Homo sapiens: one gene and its partners. The protein of the gene in region 1 interacts with the protein of each later gene in a pairwise test. Each region holds a gene or a part of one and is shown in the gene's direction. Other genes may lie near its edges.

Region 1 (6,553 bases):
CTTTACCAAAAATACAAAAAATTTAGCTGGGCATGGTGGCGTGTGCCTGTAGTCCCAGGTACTTGGGAGGCTGAGGTGGAAGGATGGTTTCAGCCTGGGACGCAGAGGTTGCAGTGAGCCGAGATCATGTCATTGCACTCCAGCCTGGGTAATAGAGCCAGATCCTGTCTCAAAAAAAAAAAAAAAAAAAGCTTTGTATCCATTTTGGCATACATAGACTAGTATGTATGGCAGTAAATAGACTAGTGGCAGTAAATAGACTAGTACCTACATATATTTTTTGTATTCGTGGCATACTTAACTTTTGCTTAATTTTAAAAATATATTTCTAGGCTTGTAGTTCCTCTGTAAGTTTTTTCAAATTGTTGCAAATCTCTGAAAATGTTTCCAATGTATTTATTGAAAAAAATCCACAAGTAAGTGGACCTGCACAGTTCAAACCTGTGCTATTCAAAGGTCAACTATATAGTCTGTAATACGTGATGGGTGTCACGCTGAGTGTCTACAGTGAGTGTTGTCTCACTTCAGCTTCACACAACGCTGTGGTTTAGCCTTGCCACTGCCGTACGGATGAGCGGGTGTTCACTACACGAAGGTACTGGGCAGAGGAGCAAACACTGACTAAATTCTAGCCTGTGCTTTGCTCAACAAGCCACATGCCTGCCTTGCTTGCATCAAGGGAAGGAGTATTGTGTTCTAATTTGAAGAAATACACCAGCCACTCCTTAGGCAGCACTTGGTGCGGGATGGGCTCCTCTGGAAAGGGAGCACCTAATTTGCACAAAGGTGCTGCACCAGGTAGCTACGATCCTGGAATGGGATGAAGAAACTTGCCTAAGGCCCTACAGCAAGGAAGGGGTAAAAGCAGGATGTGATCCTTCCAAGCAGAACCCCCAAGAGCCAGGGGACATTTGGGAAACCTGGGGGTGTGGGGGTTAACCCTGTATTTGTGGTCCATTTCGCAAAGGATAGCATCCCACATCCATGAGAGGGAGGTCAGAAGGGAGTGGCTGTGGCTGTGAAGGAGACAGACACCTGGGCACCTGCTCTAAATTACAGCAATGCCATGCACATGATGATGTATTGGAGCACAACAAATGGCAGCCACCAGCTGGGGTGCACGCACCAATTTCTACAAATGAGCTCTGTTCAGGCTGAAATGTCTACGCATGCAAGGATTTTTCTTGTAATTGATGATATATCCCCAGCGCCCAGAAGACAGAGTGGCACGCAGTAGGTGCTCAGTAAATGTTCGCTCAATGAATGAATGAATGCCTCTACTAGCCTTCCAAAGAAAGTTCTATGTCTGTTTTATCAATATGGAAACAGGCCAGAGAAATTAAGTAACTTCTTTTGGAAGCCAGAAACAAGCCCGGCACTTGTGCAGTGACAACACCAGGGAATTTCAGTAAAAACCCAAACTCCACCCCAGGGAGCCCCAGTGCCTCCTCCCGCATCACAGGGTGCCAGGGCCCACTCTCTTTGACTCCTGCTCCATAGCCCCTGCTGGGTACTGGGCTGCTTCTCCCAGTTCCTCCTGCCTCCCCCCACTTAGGGCAAATCCAGTGCCTCCCTGGGGCCCAGGAGACTCAGTGTGATCCACCCCAGGCGCCTCTCACTCCTGTGAGACCCAAACCTCCTATCAGCTCCCCCAGCAGGCCAAGTCTGTGCACCCGTGACTCCCCTGCCCCAATGTTCCCTCCAGTGGCTCTTTGCCTCTTCAGTATCCACGTCTTCATGATCCTTCCCCTACTCCATCCCCCAAGCCCTCACCACCAAATGTAATGTAAACAGCATGACAGCAAAAACTTTTTGTTCACAACTGCGTGTTGTTTTTTTTTTTTTTTTTTTTTTTTAGACACAGTCTCACTCTGTTGCTCAGGATGGAGTGCAGTGACACAGTCATGGCTCACTGCAGCCTTGAATTCCTGGGCTCAAGCGATTCTTCCATTTCAGCTTCCCAAGTAGCTGGGACCAGAGGCACATGCCACTAAACCCAGCTAATTTCTTTTTTCTTTCTCTCTTTTTTTTTTTTTTTTCCCCTGTGGACATAGGGTCTCCTCATGTTGCCCAGGCTAGTCTCAAACAACCTGTGCTCAAGCAATCCTCCCACCTCAGCCTGCCAAAGTGCTAAAATTACGGACCTGAGCCACCGTACCCAGCCTACTGCTGCACTTTTAACAGCTTAATTGAGATATTATGTACATATCATCAAATTCACCAATGTTAAGTGTACAATTCAATGATTTTTAGTAAATTTACTGAGGTGTGAGTCCATTACCATCAGCTAGTTTTAGAACATTTTCATGACCCTAGTAAAGGATTTTACTTCATGTTCATTTAAACTTAATCTTGGGCCAGGCGGGGTGGCTCACGCCTATAATCTCAGCATTTTGGGAGGCTGGGGTGGACGGATCACCTGAGGTCAGTAGTTCGAGACCAGCCTGGCCAACATGGCGAAACCTCATCTCTACTAAACATACAAAAATTAGCCAGGCGTGGTGGCGGGCACCTGTAATCCTAGCTACTTAGGAAGCTGAGGCATGAGAATTTCTTGAACCCGGGAGGCAGAGTTTGCAGTGAGCCAAGATTGCACCATTGCACTCCAGCCTGGGCGACAACAAGACCCTGTCTCAAAAAAAAAAAAAAAAAAAAAAAAACAACTTAATCTTCATTTCTACCTCCATCCCCCAGACAACCACGAGTCTACTTTCTGACTCTATAACTTTGCCTATTCTGGACATATCATATAAATAAATGAAATCTGACAATATATGTACATGGTCTTTTACGTCTGGCTTGTTTCACTCAACATAAGGCTGTAGTGTGTATGGGTAGCTCATTCCTTTTCTTTGCCAAATAGAATTCCAGTATATGGATGTGCCACTTTTTTATTCACTCACCAGCTGATGGGCTGCCAGGTAACATTTCCACTGTTGGTGACTATGACCAACACTGCTGTGAACATTTAGGACTGAGTCTTTAAGTAGACCTGAGTTTCCACTTCTCTTAAGTAAATACCTACGGTGGAATTGTTGGATCGCATGGTGAATTTATGTTTAACTTTTTAAGCAACTGCCACCTGCTTTCCAAAGCAGGGACACCACCTCCCATTATTCTCACCAGCAGTGAATGAGGCCCCTATCTCTCTACATTCTCGCCGACCATAGGCATTGTCTGACTTTTTGCTTGTGGCCATTCTAGTGGATGTGAAATCATATCTCATTGTGCCCTGTGATTGTTTGAATGAACTAATAGATCACCTGTGAAACTGGACAGCACTTGGGTTTGAACCCTAGTGGTGACATTTCACAAGCTGTATCACCTGGAGCAAGTCACTTCCCTACGGTGAAGGACAAGGATTTTATGACATAAAAGCGTTGCCCTAGAAGCAGTGTCTGCTATGGATTATGTGCCCATGAAAAGGCAGCTGCTGTCATCATCGCCACCACCATTATTATTGTTATTATTATTACATTGTCACCCCAGAGATAATCCTGCACCAGTGACAGGGAAAATAGCAGCTGGCATCCGCTGCCTGCTCACGACCACACGCCAGGCTTCCGTCAAACCACTCAACATGTATTAGTAATCTTTTAATCGACCTACATATTGTTTTAATTTGCATGTGTTAATGCGTTGATCTATGAGATGGGTATTATGATGAGCTCTGTTCTGCAGGGGAGAAAGCAGAAACATGGAGAATTTAAGTCATTTCCCCCAAATCACAAAGTCAGGAAGAAACAGACCTCACGGAGCTCGCTCTCTGTCATTGCATCACACTTCCTGCCCTTACAAGGCAAATTGGATAAATGCCATTCTAGAGAAGCAGACAAAATTCAAGTGAAGAAGGGGAGAGGAAGACGTCGGCTGGGGCCTGCTTAGAGCATCCCAGCTGAGACTGCATGAGGAGGGAGGCACGCAGTTGTGGAATTTGTTCCCCTTTTAGCATGCTGACCAGCCCTGGCAACGGAGCTCAAGGCATCTATGTGCCACTGCTCAACAGTGAGTGACGTCATGGGCACGGCCAGGTCTTTATCAGTTCTGCCGGATAAATAGCCAACTGCACTAGGTCTGGAGAGACAGCAAGGTGCTGTGCGGCAGAGCATTTGGGGTCTCAAAGAAGCAGGTGAGCCTGGGCCCGAGGGGCTGGGTGGAGGAGCACCTTGGTGCTTCTCTGCTGGGGAAGGGACAGGGGACAGGGCATGCTCAGGAAGACAGGCAGGCTGACCCCGCCTGGAAGGCACCCAGAGACAAGAGGGGTGGGCGTAGTGACCTCGTGCCCTTTTAGGGGAGATGCTGCTGGCCAGAGGCCGTTAGGGCCCCCACTACCAACTCCATGTTACTCTCTCTCACCAGTGGCCACCACCATGGATACAGGCCCCGACCAGTCCTACTTCTCCGGCAATCACTGGTTCGTCTTCTCGGTGTACCTTCTCACTTTCCTGGTGGGGCTCCCCCTCAACCTGCTGGCCCTGGTGGTCTTCGTGGGCAAGCTGCAGCGCCGCCCGGTGGCCGTGGACGTGCTCCTGCTCAACCTGACCGCCTCGGACCTGCTCCTGCTGCTGTTCCTGCCTTTCCGCATGGTGGAGGCAGCCAATGGCATGCACTGGCCCCTGCCCTTCATCCTCTGCCCACTCTCTGGATTCATCTTCTTCACCACCATCTATCTCACCGCCCTCTTCCTGGCAGCTGTGAGCATTGAACGCTTCCTGAGTGTGGCCCACCCACTGTGGTACAAGACCCGGCCGAGGCTGGGGCAGGCAGGTCTGGTGAGTGTGGCCTGCTGGCTGTTGGCCTCTGCTCACTGCAGCGTGGTCTACGTCATAGAATTCTCAGGGGACATCTCCCACAGCCAGGGCACCAATGGGACCTGCTACCTGGAGTTCCGGAAGGACCAGCTAGCCATCCTCCTGCCCGTGCGGCTGGAGATGGCTGTGGTCCTCTTTGTGGTCCCGCTGATCATCACCAGCTACTGCTACAGCCGCCTGGTGTGGATCCTCGGCAGAGGGGGCAGCCACCGCCGGCAGAGGAGGGTGGCGGGGCTGTTGGCGGCCACGCTGCTCAACTTCCTTGTCTGCTTTGGGCCCTACAACGTGTCCCATGTCGTGGGCTATATCTGCGGTGAAAGCCCGGCGTGGAGGATCTACGTGACGCTTCTCAGCACCCTGAACTCCTGTGTCGACCCCTTTGTCTACTACTTCTCCTCCTCCGGGTTCCAAGCCGACTTTCATGAGCTGCTGAGGAGGTTGTGTGGGCTCTGGGGCCAGTGGCAGCAGGAGAGCAGCATGGAGCTGAAGGAGCAGAAGGGAGGGGAGGAGCAGAGAGCGGACCGACCAGCTGAAAGAAAGACCAGTGAACACTCACAGGGCTGTGGAACTGGTGGCCAGGTGGCCTGTGCTGAAAGCTAGGTCCTCCGGGGGAGGAGGGTGTAGCTGGCATGTCATCCTCAGGGCGCTTCCTCGCTCACGCCAGGAGGGACTTGGAGTGGCGAGCTGGGGCCCGATGGGGCTTGGGGGCAGAGTAGACATCTAGCCTCCCTAAGGGTATGCGCGCTAAAGCCCAGCTCTCGATCTCACCTCCATCCCCATCCACCCACACACTATGGATTGGGCTCTGGGAAGGGGTCAGGGTGAGAGGCTGCTCTGGAGAACAATGAGGTCCTCATAGCAGCAGGCAGCTCCTGTGTTTTCTTGAGGGTGGCAGAGGAGCTAAGAGCAGTGCCCAGGGTCTGAGGGGGCTGCCCAGTGAGTGGCAGGGGCAGGAGAGGGGAGAACCCCATCCTCAGAGCTGCTCCCAGCCAGCGAGTCAGGAGCGGGGGAGACAGGGCTCCAGGGATGAGGCCGCATTCTGCTCCCACAGCGCCTTTTCCAGAAAGTTCCCATTGCTCAATAAATGTGGATCATCAGAGACATTTATGAACAATGACAGAAGAAAAATTACCCAAATAAATGTGGAAGCAAGCAAAAGAGAACAGTGTTTCCTTCTTCTCCTGTTTTGTTCTGGTGGTGTGCTTGGGCCGGGTGGGACTGGTGGATGGAAGGAGAAAACACCAGACTCTGGAGGAAAAGGGCCAAACACCAGGATGCCTGGATGCTGGGAGAGGATCTGGCTTGCAGGGATGAAAATAACAGCTGCCCTGTCTAAAGGACTTGGCCTGACACATCATCTCCTTCTATCTCTCAATAGCCCTGTGAGAGGTACCAGCATTATCCCCAGTTTCAGATGAAGGAGTGGCCCAGAGAGGTGACACCTCCTACCTGAGATCCCATAGCTGGTGGGCGATTGAAGTGGGACCAGAAGCTGGTGTCAGTTGACTCTGACACCCATGCCCCTAAGCCACTCTGCTGTTCTCCATCTGTGTGTCACCTGTGGTCACCTGGCCCAGTCAAATGTCCCAAGTCAGATAAGTCTGTCTGAGCAGGACAAATATAAACAGGCCATGATAAGAAACAGAACTAAATGCAAAGCGTATTGACTATTTGTGTGGGTTCAACCTTTTCCCAGTAAAAAAGCCCTCTTGGAAAAAAAGAAAAAAAGATAATTAGTCAGC
Region 2 (7,000 bases), on another chromosome or scaffold:
GCCAACCTCCTAAATTTTTGTTAATACAGTGACTTGTTTTATAGAAATGATTTATAGTTGCTATGAATGGTCAAGCAATGCAGAGTAGAAATTAAATAAAAATGTCCCCCCAAAATCTTCCTTCTCTCTCAATGCATGGGTGCATTGTGTATTTGTATACACATGGGTGGATGAATAGACAAAAATATATTCTTAGGAATGGCAGCATCTTAAACATATTTTTAAGCAAAGCATTGAATTTAATGTTTCTTGAATTTAACAAAAAAAAAAGTAATTCTTAAATGTTAACATTTGTCAGGAGAGTTTCTTAAAAAGATTCTTCTAAGGAGGTGTTTCCATAGCAGTGATTTTCAACTGGACACAGTTTTGCTCCCCAGTGGGCATTTGGCAATATCTGCAGACATTTTTCATTGTCACAACCTGGGGTGAGGCGTGCCACTAGCATCTAGTTAGTTGGTAGAGGACAAGGATGCTGCTAAATCTACAATGTATAGGATAGCCCCCAACAACAAATAATTATTCAGCCCAAAATAGCAATAACAACATGGTTAAGAAAGTCTGGTTTAAGTTTAAGAAAAACATTGTATAAGACATTGAAGTTGGAGTAACTTTTTAAGGACATTTTAATTTTAGATTCACTTCTCTGAAAGGTGGAACAAATCAATATTCACCCATTCCCCTAGTTCCCAGGTTTAATTAATTGTATCATTTTTAAATTTTTTAATTCATAATTCTGTATGTACATACTTCTCTATGCGCTTAAGAAAAATAGTATACCACTCCCATTTCCTCCCTTTGGAGACAGTATTTCTTTTGGTATTTATTGCCGTATTTCTAATTAACATACATATAGTGTATTCTTGATTTTGTTTATTTGTTTTAGACATTGTCTTCTAACTATGGAAGACGAAGATTTAGCAGTCATCCCTTGATTTCAACTGGCCCTCATCCCTACCCCCACCAAAATCACACACACACATTGATGTCCCCATAGCTTTCCATAATACTAAATAATTTTGGTAAATGAACATTATTGTGACTATTTAAATAAGTTTATATATGTAAAGCTGTAGCAAGCACTTACATGTTAGTTCTTTATTTGTGTAATGCTCTTCATAGGTCAGCCTTGTACTAAATATGCAATGACTTTTCCTTTCATGCACAACATTTTTTGTTCATTGGTTTGCTTTCTTTTCTTTTTTTGACAGAATCTCACTGCATTGCCCAGGCTGGAGTGCAGTGGCGCGATCTCAGCTCACTGCGACTTTGAACCTTCCGGGTTCAAGTGATTCGCTTGCCTCAGCCTCCTGAGTAGCTGGGATTACAGGCATGTGCCACCACACCCAGCTAATTTTTATATTTTTAGTAGAGATGGTGTTTTGTCATGTTGGCCAGGCTGGTCTCAGAACTCCTAGCCTCAAGTGATCCACCTGCCTTGGCCTCCCGAAGTGCTGGGATTATAGGTGTGAGCCACCGCACCCAGCCTATTTTCAGTGTATTTAAATTATTTAACCTCAGACTTTTCCCCAGCTGTATGCATCTCTAAGTTCAGATACATGTCATGATTGATCGAACCTTGGAGGTTATCTCTCCCAGAATCTTCTGACCTGCTCTAGTCTATAGTCAACTGTTTTCATCCTGGATCTCACTTTATCCTCTAATGAGGATGTACATTTCCTCTCTCTTAGGTTGAAACCCTTTTTTTCTTCATTGCTTGTATTCATTTGGTTGACGACCATGTTTTGGTATAATGCTCCTTGACAGAACCACATAGGAGGTACACTTTGGTCATAGAAGTCTAGATTGGAAGTCATTTTCCCTCAGAATTTTGATGCTCCTTTGTAGACTTGTAGTCTTGCTGCTGGGTATTCTGAAGTCATTTTAGAAACTTTTTCTGTATGACCTTTCCATCCTTCACTTCTCCACCAGTTAATTACATTTCTTGAATTCTTTAATTTTCTCACCTGTATTTTCTACATTGTCTTTCTGTTATTCACATATTATGCTTCCTGGACTGAAACTCTAGGTTTCTTCCTTTCTGCTTTCCATCTCATTGGCTTTTTGCACGGCTTTCTGAGAAATTTCCTTGATTGTTTTCAGAACTTCCGTTGAATTTTATTTTTTAAATTTTTTTATTGACTGATTGGACTTCTGTTGAATTTTTAAACCTCTGCTATAGGGGCAGTGTGCTCACACCTATAATCTTAGCACTTTGGGAGGCCAAGGTAGGCAGATCACTTGAGCTCAGGCCTTGGCAACATGGCAAAACACTGTCTATACAAAAAATACAAAAAAATTAGCCAGGCGTGGTGGTGCGTGCTTATGGTCCCAGCTACACCCAGCGTATCTGTGATCTCAGCTTCTGTAGAGGCTGAGGTGGGGGGATCACCTAAACCCAGGGAGGTTGTGGCTTCAGTGAGCTGTAATCATGCCACTGCACTCTAGTAAAGCCTACATTCCAGCCTGGACGACAGAGTGAGACTCTGTCTCAAAAAACAAACAACAACAAAAACCTCTGCTGTAACATTTTTAATTACCAAGAGTCTGTTTTGTTCTCTGTTTCACCTAGTCTTGCTTTGTTGCCCGGGATGGAGCGTAGTGGCGTGATCTCGGCTCACTGAAACTTCCGCCTCCCAAGTTCGAGCAATTCCGCCTCCCAAGTTCAAATGCCTCAGCCTTCTGAGTAGCTGGGACTATAGGTGCACAACACCATCCCTGGGTAATTTTTGTATTTTTAGTAGAGACTGTTTCACCATGTTGGCCAGGCTGGTCTTGAACTCCTGACCTCAAGTGATCTGCCAGCCTCAGCCTCCCAAAGTGCTGGGATTACAGGTGTGAGCCACCGTTCCTGGCCTCTGTTCCATTTTTATAGCATCCTGTGGTTGTTTCATGGAAGCAAGCTTTCTCCCTTTTTAAAAAAATCTTTATTTTTATCTTTATGATATACCCTGTACTATATAGTTTATTAATATACTCTGTAAGTATATTAAAAATACCAAATTTTTTATGCTTTTATGTCTGCCTATAATTTCTTTTCAAGTTTCTCCTATCCACTCCTCCCACTTTCATTGATCTTAGTGTTTTCCGGAGTATTCAGTGGTCAGTAGCTATTTGTTCATATTTAGGAGTGGGACACTCAAGAGCTTGGTGTAGGACTTGTCAGCTGTGACTACCGTGAAGTGATCTGGCTCAACCAGTTTATTGTGGAAGCCTAATGCAGATATTTATCTAGGGCTATTGATAGATCCAGGGTACACTTCCAGTCTCCAACCTGGGGAATATACCTGCATTCTGGAAGGCAAGTGACGGAAAGAATGATGAGGTTCTTCACATTCAGTACATAAAATTTGACTTAATTTTATGTTTTTAGTATGGAACCCCTTCTGTCAACTCTACTTGGTGTTTCCCTGTCAAACCTCATGTTTTATTCTTTCAGGTGACTAGTGCAAGAAATGGAATGAAATCTGGGAGTCTTAACTGCTCTTTGGAAAGACATTCAACCAATCATCTATTTTTACTATACCTTTAGTGTCACTTACAGAGACTCCTGGTGCCACCAGTTCCTGAACTATTTGGGGATTCTGCCAAATGAATTGTGTTGCTCGTTAACTTTTTCCTTTGATAACTTAGAATTCAGCTTTCTCTGTTAAGGTTGTTACTACTTCGTAGTTTCTACTTCCTAGATTTGTTCTGGGAAGAACAAAACAAAAGAACTAGAACAAAAGATCTAGTTCTTTTTGACTTTTACATTTTATTCTTTCTTTTTTAAAGAAAAAAAACCCCAAACCTTTATTTTTTATTTTATTGGGATTTCTAGAGTGAACATAGGTAAATTAATATATTCAGTCTGCCATCTTTAACTAGAAGCACTTTGTACTATTATTTTTATGTTGCCATTATCTTATACCCTAGAAACATTGACTGGGGGCATTCTATGTTTTAATAAGCCCTCCAGGTAATTCTGGTAGTTGTTACAGTTTGAGAACCAGTGCTCTAAACTTAAGTGGATGCAAAGCTCTCTACCAGTCCTTGGCTTACCATTGCTTTGCTCTAATTTTTTATTTTAATGTCATCTCCTAATTGACCACATTTTGTCATCAGTAGATTTTTCAAAAAGGATTTATTGGTGCCGGAATCTCTAAGTTCTTTGGTTTTTGAAAGTGCCTGCTAAATTCTTGAGAGACATTTTGGACTGGTATAATATAGTATACGAATTTCCTTCAGAACTTTGTAGTTATTTCTCTTTCGTATTCTGTCTTATATCAGCCTGGTTTCCACACCGTCCCTCTGCACGTGCATAGGTGGTTTGTTTCCTCTGCCTGAGTAGCTGAAGAGTTTTTGTTTATCTTAGAAATTAAATAACCAGATAAGTCTGAGTTTAAATCTTTTATCACTTTTTTTCCCCTTCTCAAAAAGTAGTGTGCTCTTTTGATGCACAGATTATTTTTCCATCTAAGGAATTTTTCTTATATTAGATCTGTGAATATCCTTTAATTCATTTATTTAGAGGATTCTCTATTTTAAGGACTTTTTTTAGTTAAGGTATAATTTACATACAGTAGAATTTACTCTTTGTAATATACAGTTCCATGAGTTTTGACAAATGCATCTCTAGTCGTGTAACCGTTTTGGAACATCGATCATCCTAAAAAATTGCACTGTCCTGTCCTTGGCAACCCCTATTTTCTGTCTTTAGGATTTTGCCTTTCTAGAGTGTCATATTAATGGAATCCTACAATATATAGTCTTTGAGTCTGGCTTCTTTTACTTAGCACATAATGAGTTTCATTCTCCGTATGTTTTTATTGTTGAATATTGTTTTTGTTTGGATGTACCACAATTTATCCATTCACCATTTGAGGAGCCTTTCTAGGTTTTGATGATTACAAATAAAGTAGCTATAAGCATTCCCATCAAGGTTTTTTTGTGTAATTATAAGTTCTTATTTCACTTGAATAAATATCTGAGTGTGGATTTGCTTATTCATACAGTAAGTGCATGTTTGATTTAAAAATAAGAAACAGTCAAACTGGTTTCCAAAATGGTTGTACCATTTTTCATTCCCGCCACCAAAGTAAGAGAGTTCTAGTTGCTCTGCATTCTTGTCAGTAGTTGGTATCATCAGTTTATTTCATTTTAGCCGTTCTAATATGCATGCAGTAGTATCTCTGATTTTAATGTACATTTCCCTAATAATGATATTGAGCACTTTTTCTTTGCTTATTTGCTGTCTATATGCCTTTTATTAAAGTATCTGTTTAAATATTTTGCCCATTTTTAATTGAGTTGTTTGTTTTCTTATCACTGAGTTTTTAGAGTTCTTTTTATATTCTGGATGCCGATGATTTATCATGTACCTCACTTGCAAGTATTTTCAAGTTTATGGCTTGCTTTTTCATTCTCAGCAGTGTGTTTCAAAGAGCAAAAGTTCTTAATTTTGATGAAGCCCAATTCATTTGTTTTTCTTTTGTGAGTCCTGTTTTTTATATGGTATCTAGGAAATCTTAATTCTCATATATGGTTTGATTATGGCTTAAGGTTAACTTTCTAAAAAATGTATGAATATCCAATTATTTCAGCAACATCTGTTAAAAAGATTATCCTTTCCATAGTGAATTGCTTTGGTATCTTTGTCAAAAATCCTTTGATTATATTTGCATGAATCTATTTCTGAACTTTATTGTGTTCTACTTAGTGTGTCCACCCTTTTCCCTATATCACTCTGTTTTAATTACTGTCACTTTAATGCTAGTCTTGAAATCAGGTAGTGTGTCTTTTAACTTTGTTCTTTTTTCAGACTTGTTTGAGCTATTCTGGTGTTTTTTGCCTGTTCAGCTAGTTTATTTCTGTAAATCTGATGTTGGGATTGTGATTGGAATTGGGCTGAATCTATAGATAAGTTTGGAAAGACCTGATATCTTGAAAATAATTGTCTTCCAACTATGAACTCTGTATATTTTGCCATTCATTTAGGTCTTTGATTTCTTTCACCAATGTTTTGTAGTTTTCATTATTTGAGATCTTGTCTATGTTTTGTTAGATTTATAACTATTTTCTTTTTGTTTTCAGTTATTACTAATACGTAGAAACATGATTGTGTATATTGACTTTTTATCATGTGACCTTATTAAACCGATGAGTTAGTTCTAGTTGCATTTTTGTAGGTTCTTTGTGGGGTATTTTTATTGTTTTTATTTGTTTTGTTTTGTTGTCATCCAGACTCGAGTGCAGTGGCGCTATCATTGAACTCCTTGAACTCCTAGGCTCAAATGGTCCTCCTGCCTCAGCTTCCCAAATTGCTGGGATTACAGGTGTGAGCCATGGTGTATGGCCCTCTTTGGGATTTTCTATATAGACAGTTGTGTTATATGTGAAGAGGGCAGTTTCGTGTCTTCCATTCCAATTTTTATGTTTTATTTTCTTTCTTGCCTCATTATATTGGCTGGGACCTCCAGTGTGAAGTTGAATTCAAATGGTGAGAGAGGTATTTTGCCTTGTTTGATGTCTTACAGGGAAAGCATTCAGACTTTCGTCATTAATTATGGGTGAGAGCTATAGGTATTTGTAAATGCCATTTATCAAGTTAAGGATGTTATCTTCTATTCTTTGCTGACAGTTTATATCATGAATAGGTATTGAATTTTGTCAAATGGTTTTTCTGTATCTATTGAGATGACCTTGTTTTTTTTCTTTAGTCTGTTTATACAGTAGAGGTCATTGGTTGATTTTTAAAAGTGGAACCAGCCTTGCTTTTCCAGGCTAAACTCTACCTGGTGGCAATATATTATCCTTTTTATATACTTTCATATTGCTGTTTTTGACTTGCTAAAATATCATTAAGAATTTTTTTGTGTATGTTTATGAGGGATATCGGTCTATTATTTTCTTATGATGTCTTTGGATTTAGTCTCTGTAATTCTGGCCCATTTTTTTAAATAAGAAGAATATGTCTCTTTCATATTCCTTTGTATGCAAATCCAAATTTCTCTCTGGTATAATT
Region 3 (6,825 bases), on another chromosome or scaffold:
GGGATTACAGGCGCCTGCCACCACGCCTGGCTAATTTTTGTATTTTTAGTAGAGACAGGGTTTCACCGTGTTGGTCAGGCTGGTCTTGAACTCCTGACCTCAGATGACCTACCCGCCTTGGCCTCCAAAAGTGCTGGGATTACAGGCTCGAGCCACCGCACCCGGCCCCCAATCATGGCTTCTAGCTGGTGGTTGACTATTTCTGTAGTCAGAGCCCTCCCCAGGGGATATGGATCTCAAACCTCCCAGGGCAGAGACAGAAATGGGACCATTTCTAACAAAACCTGGGGCCTGCAACTCCCCTTAGCACTGGGCATAGAGTGACAAATAAAACACCCTCTTCTCTCAAGGAAGTCATGGTCTAGTGCGGGGAATAGACAAGTAAACAAAAAACTACCATTTCCTAAATGAAGTCCAGAGGCGGAGGGTGTGCGTGGGCTACGAGAGCAGGGAGAAGGGGAAGCTAATTCTGGTTAGAGAAGTCAAGAGGACTTCACTGAGGAAGTGATTTCTATGCTGAAACCAGAAAGACGGCAAGCAGTCAGCTGGCTAAAGTGGGGATAGTGTCCTGGTGGAAGGAACCACATGGCCAAAGGCCCAGAAGCCAGAGACAGCATGGCTCATTGGAGAAACTGAAAGAAGAATCATAGAGCTCAGAGTTGGGAAGTGTTTTAAAATACACCCAAGACCTTTTTTTTTTTAAATAATTGAGACGGGGTTTCCTTCCTCTGTCACCAGGCTGGAGGGCAGTGGTGTGATCATAGCTCACTGCAGCCTCAAACTCCTGGCTCAAGCCATCCTCTCACCTCAGCCAGAGTAGTTAGGACTACAGGAGTGCCACCCAAACCCGGCAAATTTTGTGACTGTTATAGCTTCTCCTTATGTTGCCCAGGCTGGTCTTGAACTCTTGACCTCAAACAATCCTCCTTCCTTGATCTCTCAAAATGCTGGGATTATGGGAATGAGCCACCATGCCCAGCCCCCAACTTCTTAAAGTAATCAGGGCTGATTTTCCCCACCATGTGTCACTCTTTATTTATTTATTTTTGAGACAGAGCCTCGCTCTGTTGTCCAGGCTGGAGTGTAGTGGCACAATCTCGGCTCACTGCAACCTCCGCCTCCCAGGTTCAAGCAATTCTCCTGCCTCAGCCTCCCAAGTAGCTGGGATTACAGGCGTGTGCCACCATGCCCAGCTAATTTTTGTGTTTTCAGTAGAGATGGGTTTCGCCATGTTGGCCAGGTTGGTCTCGAATTCCTGACCTCAGGTGATCCGCCCACCTTGGCCTCCGAAAGTGCTGGGATTACAGGCGTGAGACACCGCGCCCAGCCGGCACTCTTTTCTTTACCTGCTGGTGCAGTGGTATGAGAAGCCAAAAATGCCTAAGTGGTAGTTACAGCTTCCAATTCAGTGGAACTGTAACTGGAATGGAAGTGTTCTCTCTCCGCCTTCCCTGCTTCCCTGGGACCAGGATCTCCAACCAAGCAGAACTTAAACTTGTGACGCAGGAGGCACACATTCTATGTGTGTAGGTTTCACTGAAAGTGATAGTAAGAAGTGCTACCCCTTGGTTTGCAAATCTATAGGTATTTAGAACAAAGTACCATTATAAATAATTGATAAACCATTGGTTTAGTACATGTACTACATGCCGGAGGACAATGCCCCAGTCTCCTGAGTATTTTCCCCAACCTGGAGCCCTAACTGTGCCTTTAACAAGCCATTCCACCATCCTATTAGGCCACCTACTATTGGATGACTGAGTCACATGGTAAGACCAGTGGGTAAGACCCATGGTTATGTGTCACTGTTGCATGTTCTTTACAATTAAATTGGTCCCTTAGTCCAAAGCAATGTTGTGCAGGTAATCATTGCAGGATCCGTAAGCAAGAGGACTTTGCTTTCCTTTAACAAGGGGGAAAGGACTACTTCTGCCACAGCCACCTTTCCCTTGAAAGATTCAAGGGAAACTGGAAACGAGGGATGGTCAAGTCTCAGGCTTTCCTACCCAAATATCCTCATCCCAGTTCTCAGGTTCCCATTCATTTTCTGACAATGCCCCAGCTTTGATGGAGGAGACCTACAGAGGCTGTGCATTCAGTCTTCGTTGAAACTTTGCCACCCTTACAATTAGATCTTGGGCCTGATTTTCAGTCCAGTCTTTCTCAAGGCTATAGAAGAATAAGAATCTTCAAAGCTGCCATAGAGGCTCTCTAGCTTTCACAAAGTGCCTCAAGTTGACAGTTGGCTGTTCTAAGTCTGTCATTTTATTTTCAAGGTTTCCAATGGAGTTAAGAACACCCAGTCCATTCCATAGTCCTTATAATTACCATTGTCCTCTTAATGTTCCTGTGCCACAGCCACTAGATAACTCAGCACCTTATCTTCTACCTGCACGTTATCCCAATCAACTGCAGACAGACACCTTAGTAATTGTGATGCCATTCTATTCTAAGTGTTATCACACCACCACCACCCCCCTCCTTCTCTCTCCCCTTAACACCAGCAATATATTTGTTGTTGCCATGTGACTGGTGCGCAGTTCAGTTAGAAAATGCCAACCTAAGGTTTTATTTTCTGGGGCCACTTTTGGTACCAACATGCCTTCATATTGCTTCCTCATATGAGTAGTTTATTGGCAAGTATGAATCCAAGCACCAGGAGTGAAGTACAGGGCTTGTATATCAGGGAAGGAAGGAGACCCATTGCGAAGATGCATTGTCAAATGCGTCACTTCCAAAGGCATTTGGTTGCTTAATCCTGCTAGGTAGTTTGAAAGCTATATGAAAGGGCGCCTGAGGGGGAAAAACAGGAAAAGCATATATTCATCAAGTGTTGACCCCATTGGTCAGAGATTTGCCTCATGAGACATTAACAACTCTCTACCCCTACACTTCTGGGATGCACCTGTCTGGGTGCTGATTGGCTCCAGCAAGGTCCCATGGCCCCATCGCATGAAGAAACAAGCCTCGAAGCAGAAAGTGAGAAGCCTGAGGCATAGACTGGAGGCAAGCTCACTCAGGTTATATCTGCTGACGCTGGAATAAGATGAGTGGCGGTGAAATAAGCAGCAGGTGAGGCCAAGATGATCTGAAATGGGACATAAGAGGTGGCTGATATACTAGCACAGCTGAATTCATGAACTGAGATTCATTCCTGGTACATACTCAACCAAAAGTGCCCTGCACATGCTCTAAGCCTCAGCTTTCTCTTTGTAAAATGAGGATAATCACCCCAAGATAGCAGGATTGTTCTGAGAATTAGAGATCCTGCATGTACAAAGCCTGATCATGATCATCTTGGGGAAAAAAATACACTATATATGGCTATTATTAGATGTAAAGTCTTTCCAAGCGCTCACTTACTGGGGGTGCTCATACGAACAGACATCGCGCTTTCGATCACTCATTCAGAATGTAATTGACTCATCATGTACTTTCTCACCAGTGAAATTTTTGTGGCCAAAAGAAACTGAGGGACTGGTGACGCGGGTGACTTAATTTTTTCTTTCACAATCGTCTTTCATCACCCGATTTTATATTTCCTTAGGAAAAGAGGTATAAACACACAGTAAGAAAACCCTAAACTCGAGAATTTTCTACGTTCCCTGGAGCAAGGCCAGCCCAAGTAGTCACACTCAGCGACCCCACCACTCCGCCCTCGCCTGTCTCTTTAAGAACTCGAGGCTCAGCCTCGGGAGAAGGGCGGGCGGGAGCGGGCTCTGCGCGCCGCAGCACGCAGGTTTCTCTGGGAGCTGCTGTCTCTTTAAGGAGGCGGGGCTCTTCCCGGAGGAGGCGGAGAGGTTCCGCCCCCCGGATCTCCGGCTTCCGGCAACTGGGCTGGACCGAAACCGGCGCGGAGCAACTGAGGCCCGAGCCTTCTCGGGACCCGGGGGACGCCTAACCCCGCGAGGTGAGGCTGCCGAGTTTGCGGGACCTGTACGAGGCTAAGGGGGTTCAGGATCTCCTGCCCGCCCGGGCCGCCGCGGCCCAGCTCCTCTCCCTGAAACACTGCCTCTGCTTCGCGGTGTCCCGGGCTGCAGGGTCGCCGACACCCCATTGCCTACTAATTGCCTGACTCCGCTCTAGGCTCCTTACACGCACTCCCATTTAATGACCCCCGCACTGTGTGACTAGGTATCGTTATGCACCCATTTTACAGATGAGGAAACTGAGGCCGCGAGGAGCGCGCATACAGCAGAGAAGCAGCAGAATCGGGAATCAAACCCAGCTCTGTCTGACCCCAGAGCCTGTGCCTTTAACCACTGGCTAGGCTGAACTGCCTTTGTTCTTCACTGTCCCCATCACCTCTTTCAAACCTCAGCCTCTCCTTCCTCATCGTTACATCTCTAGGCTGCACCTGCTCTCTAAACATTCACACAGTGAGTTGAGATTCATTCCTGGTACATACACAACCAAATAAGGTTGAATTGGAACCTTTGGATCCCCGGGGTTAGTTTCTTTGTTACAGTTTTAATATTTAATAATACCTGATGCTTAGTGGTTATCTTTATATAAACCTATTAAACCCCACTGAAAAGGGAGGCAAGGGAAAGTGATACCATTTCTAATACATAAGAGTTGTTTGCAGATACTTTATACTGTCATCCTATTATGTTTACCTATTTTTTTCTTTTAGAACCCTGCAAATTTTCTTCCTCATAATTGGGAGAAGACTCACTGGCCGAATGGCAGCAGTAGATGACTTGCAATTTGAAGGTATACCAGTTGGGTGCCCACCTTTATATTTATGATCACTGTTGCTACAGTCACAGCAAGTATTTTCATTCCTATACTGCCTCACACATTGAAGGATATTATTTCAAACATCTTGGTGGCTGTTGGCCACATCCAGGTGTTTCCTGTTTGTCCACACCAGCTGTTTTTGTTTTTGTTTTTTTTGCCAGATAACCCTTCAGATTGGTAACGAGTATCATAAATTTAGTACAGTGATTACAGAAAATGCTTACACAGTTCCTGCTTTAGTTCAGAAAACATTTATTGAGCACTTACTTTGTGCTTAGAACCGTACAAGATACTGGAGACAAAAAGATGAAGAAGTTTATCCACTGGTGGAGTAGATAAAAATGTAAAAAGATCATTAGGATGAAATGTGATCAGATCATTCCCTCATTGAATCAGTAAATATCTCCTGGTTGTGACCAGGAACCGGGCAATTGTTCTAGTTATCAGGGATAGAAGAGTGAACAAAATAGTTTCCTTGTGAAGCTCTCAGTCTAGTGAGGGGGACATGTATTTATTAAATGATCATTTAAATATATACCTACAAACTATGAAAGTGCTGGAGGAAAAGTTCAAGGAGATATTAGGACTCATAACCCAGAGCCTGACTTAGGCTAGGGATTGATGAACACTTGTTTGTTTGTTTGTTTGTTTCTTTTGATGGAGTCTCACTCTGTTGCCCAGGCTGGAGTGCCTTGGCTCGATCTTGGCTTGCTGCAACCTCTGCCTCCCGGGTTCAGACGATTCTCCTGCCTCAGCCTTCTGAGTAGCTGGAACTACAGGTGCCCGTCACCACACCCGACTAATTTTTGTATTTTTAGTAGAGACGGGGCTTCACCATATTGGCCAGGCTGGTCTCGAACTTCTGACCTTGTGATCCACCCATCTTGGCCTTCCAAAGTGCTGGGATTACAGGCATGAACCACCAGGCCTGGCCCACTTACTTGTTTTATTAACACCTTACCTAACATTTACTATATGTCAGGCACTGTTCTAAATCCTGTACAGATAATCCTTATGTCAACTTTATGAAATAGTTACTTTATTCCCCTGTTTTATTAATGAGGAGACTGAGGCACAGAAAAATAATTTGCCTAATGGTCACGCAGTTAGTAAGGGATAAAATCAGGATTTGAACCCATCCAGTCTGGTATCACAGCTTATGCTGTCTCTGTTATCTAAGGAAGAGATACACTGTTTAAAGATAAATCTATTTCATTTGCAAGTACTAGAAATCCACCTCAATTTGCAAATACTGTCAACCTCGTCTTCAAAATTCATCTAGCATCTGACCACCTCCACCACTACTCTCACCATGCTCAAGGTCACTGTCACCTTTTTTCTGAATTATAGCCTTTACCTTCCTTCTGGTCTTTCTGCTTCCTCCCTTATCCCTCTACAGTCTGTACTTTGCAGCCAGAGTAGTCCTTCTAAAACTCAAGCAGATCATGTCATTCTTTCAGAACCTTCCAGTAGCTCCCATCTCACTAGAAGAAAAAGCCAGGCTGGGCGCAGTGGCTCACACCTGTAATCCCAGCACTTTGGGAGGCCGAGGAGGGCAGATCACCTGAGGTCAGGAGTTCGAGACCAGTCTGGCCAACATGGTGAAACCCTGTCTCCACTAAAAATACAAAAATTAGCTGGGCATGGTGGTGCACGCCTGTAATCCCAGCTACTCTGGAGGCTGAGGCAGGAGAATTGCTCAAACCCAGAGGTTGCAGTGAACCGAGATCGCACCACTGTGCTCCAGCCTGGGCGACAGAGCGAGACTCCATCTCAAACATAAACAAACAAACACAAAAACGAAAAAGCCAGAGCCCTTACTGTGGCTTAGGAGGCCCCTATATGATGCAGCCTCCAACCCTCTGATTTCATCTGCTGCTCTCGTCCTTTCTGTCTCTGCCCAAGCTGCATGGGCTGTCACGGTTCTTCCTATGCACCAAGTACATTCACAGCTTGGGATGTTTGTGCCATCTTTCTGTGTGGGACATTCTCCCTTCAGATAGCCTTATGGCTTGCTTCTTTGCTCTGTTCAAATCTCTCCTCATTAGAGAGACCCTCCTCAGCCATCCTATCTAGGAGTGC

The links.
Region 2: the proteins of FFAR3 (region 1) and SERINC1 interact in binary tests that used the Homo sapiens proteins (3 or more experiments, as listed by UniProt).
Region 3: the proteins of FFAR3 (region 1) and YIPF1 interact in binary tests that used the Homo sapiens proteins (3 or more experiments, as listed by UniProt).

Annotation. Positions count from the first base shown.
Region 1 is NC_000019.10:35,354,521-35,361,073, forward strand, and holds FFAR3 (free fatty acid receptor 3), read left to right. Parts: upstream 1-4,005; 5' UTR 4,006-4,129; intron 4,130-4,359; coding exon of another isoform or gene 4,360-4,370; coding exon 4,371-5,411; 3' UTR 5,412-5,969; downstream 5,970-6,553. UniProt on the Homo sapiens protein: G protein-coupled receptor that is activated by a major product of dietary fiber digestion, the short chain fatty acids (SCFAs), and that plays a role in the regulation of whole-body energy homeostasis and in intestinal immunity.
Region 2 is NC_000006.12:122,461,808-122,468,807, reverse strand, and holds part of SERINC1 (serine incorporator 1), read left to right. Parts: intron 1-7,000.
Region 3 is NC_000001.11:53,886,798-53,893,622, reverse strand, and holds the start of YIPF1 (protein YIPF1), read left to right. Parts: upstream 1-3,825; 5' UTR 3,826-3,910; intron 3,911-4,159; 5' UTR 4,160-4,379; intron 4,380-4,636; 5' UTR 4,637-4,685; coding exon 4,686-4,716; intron 4,717-6,825.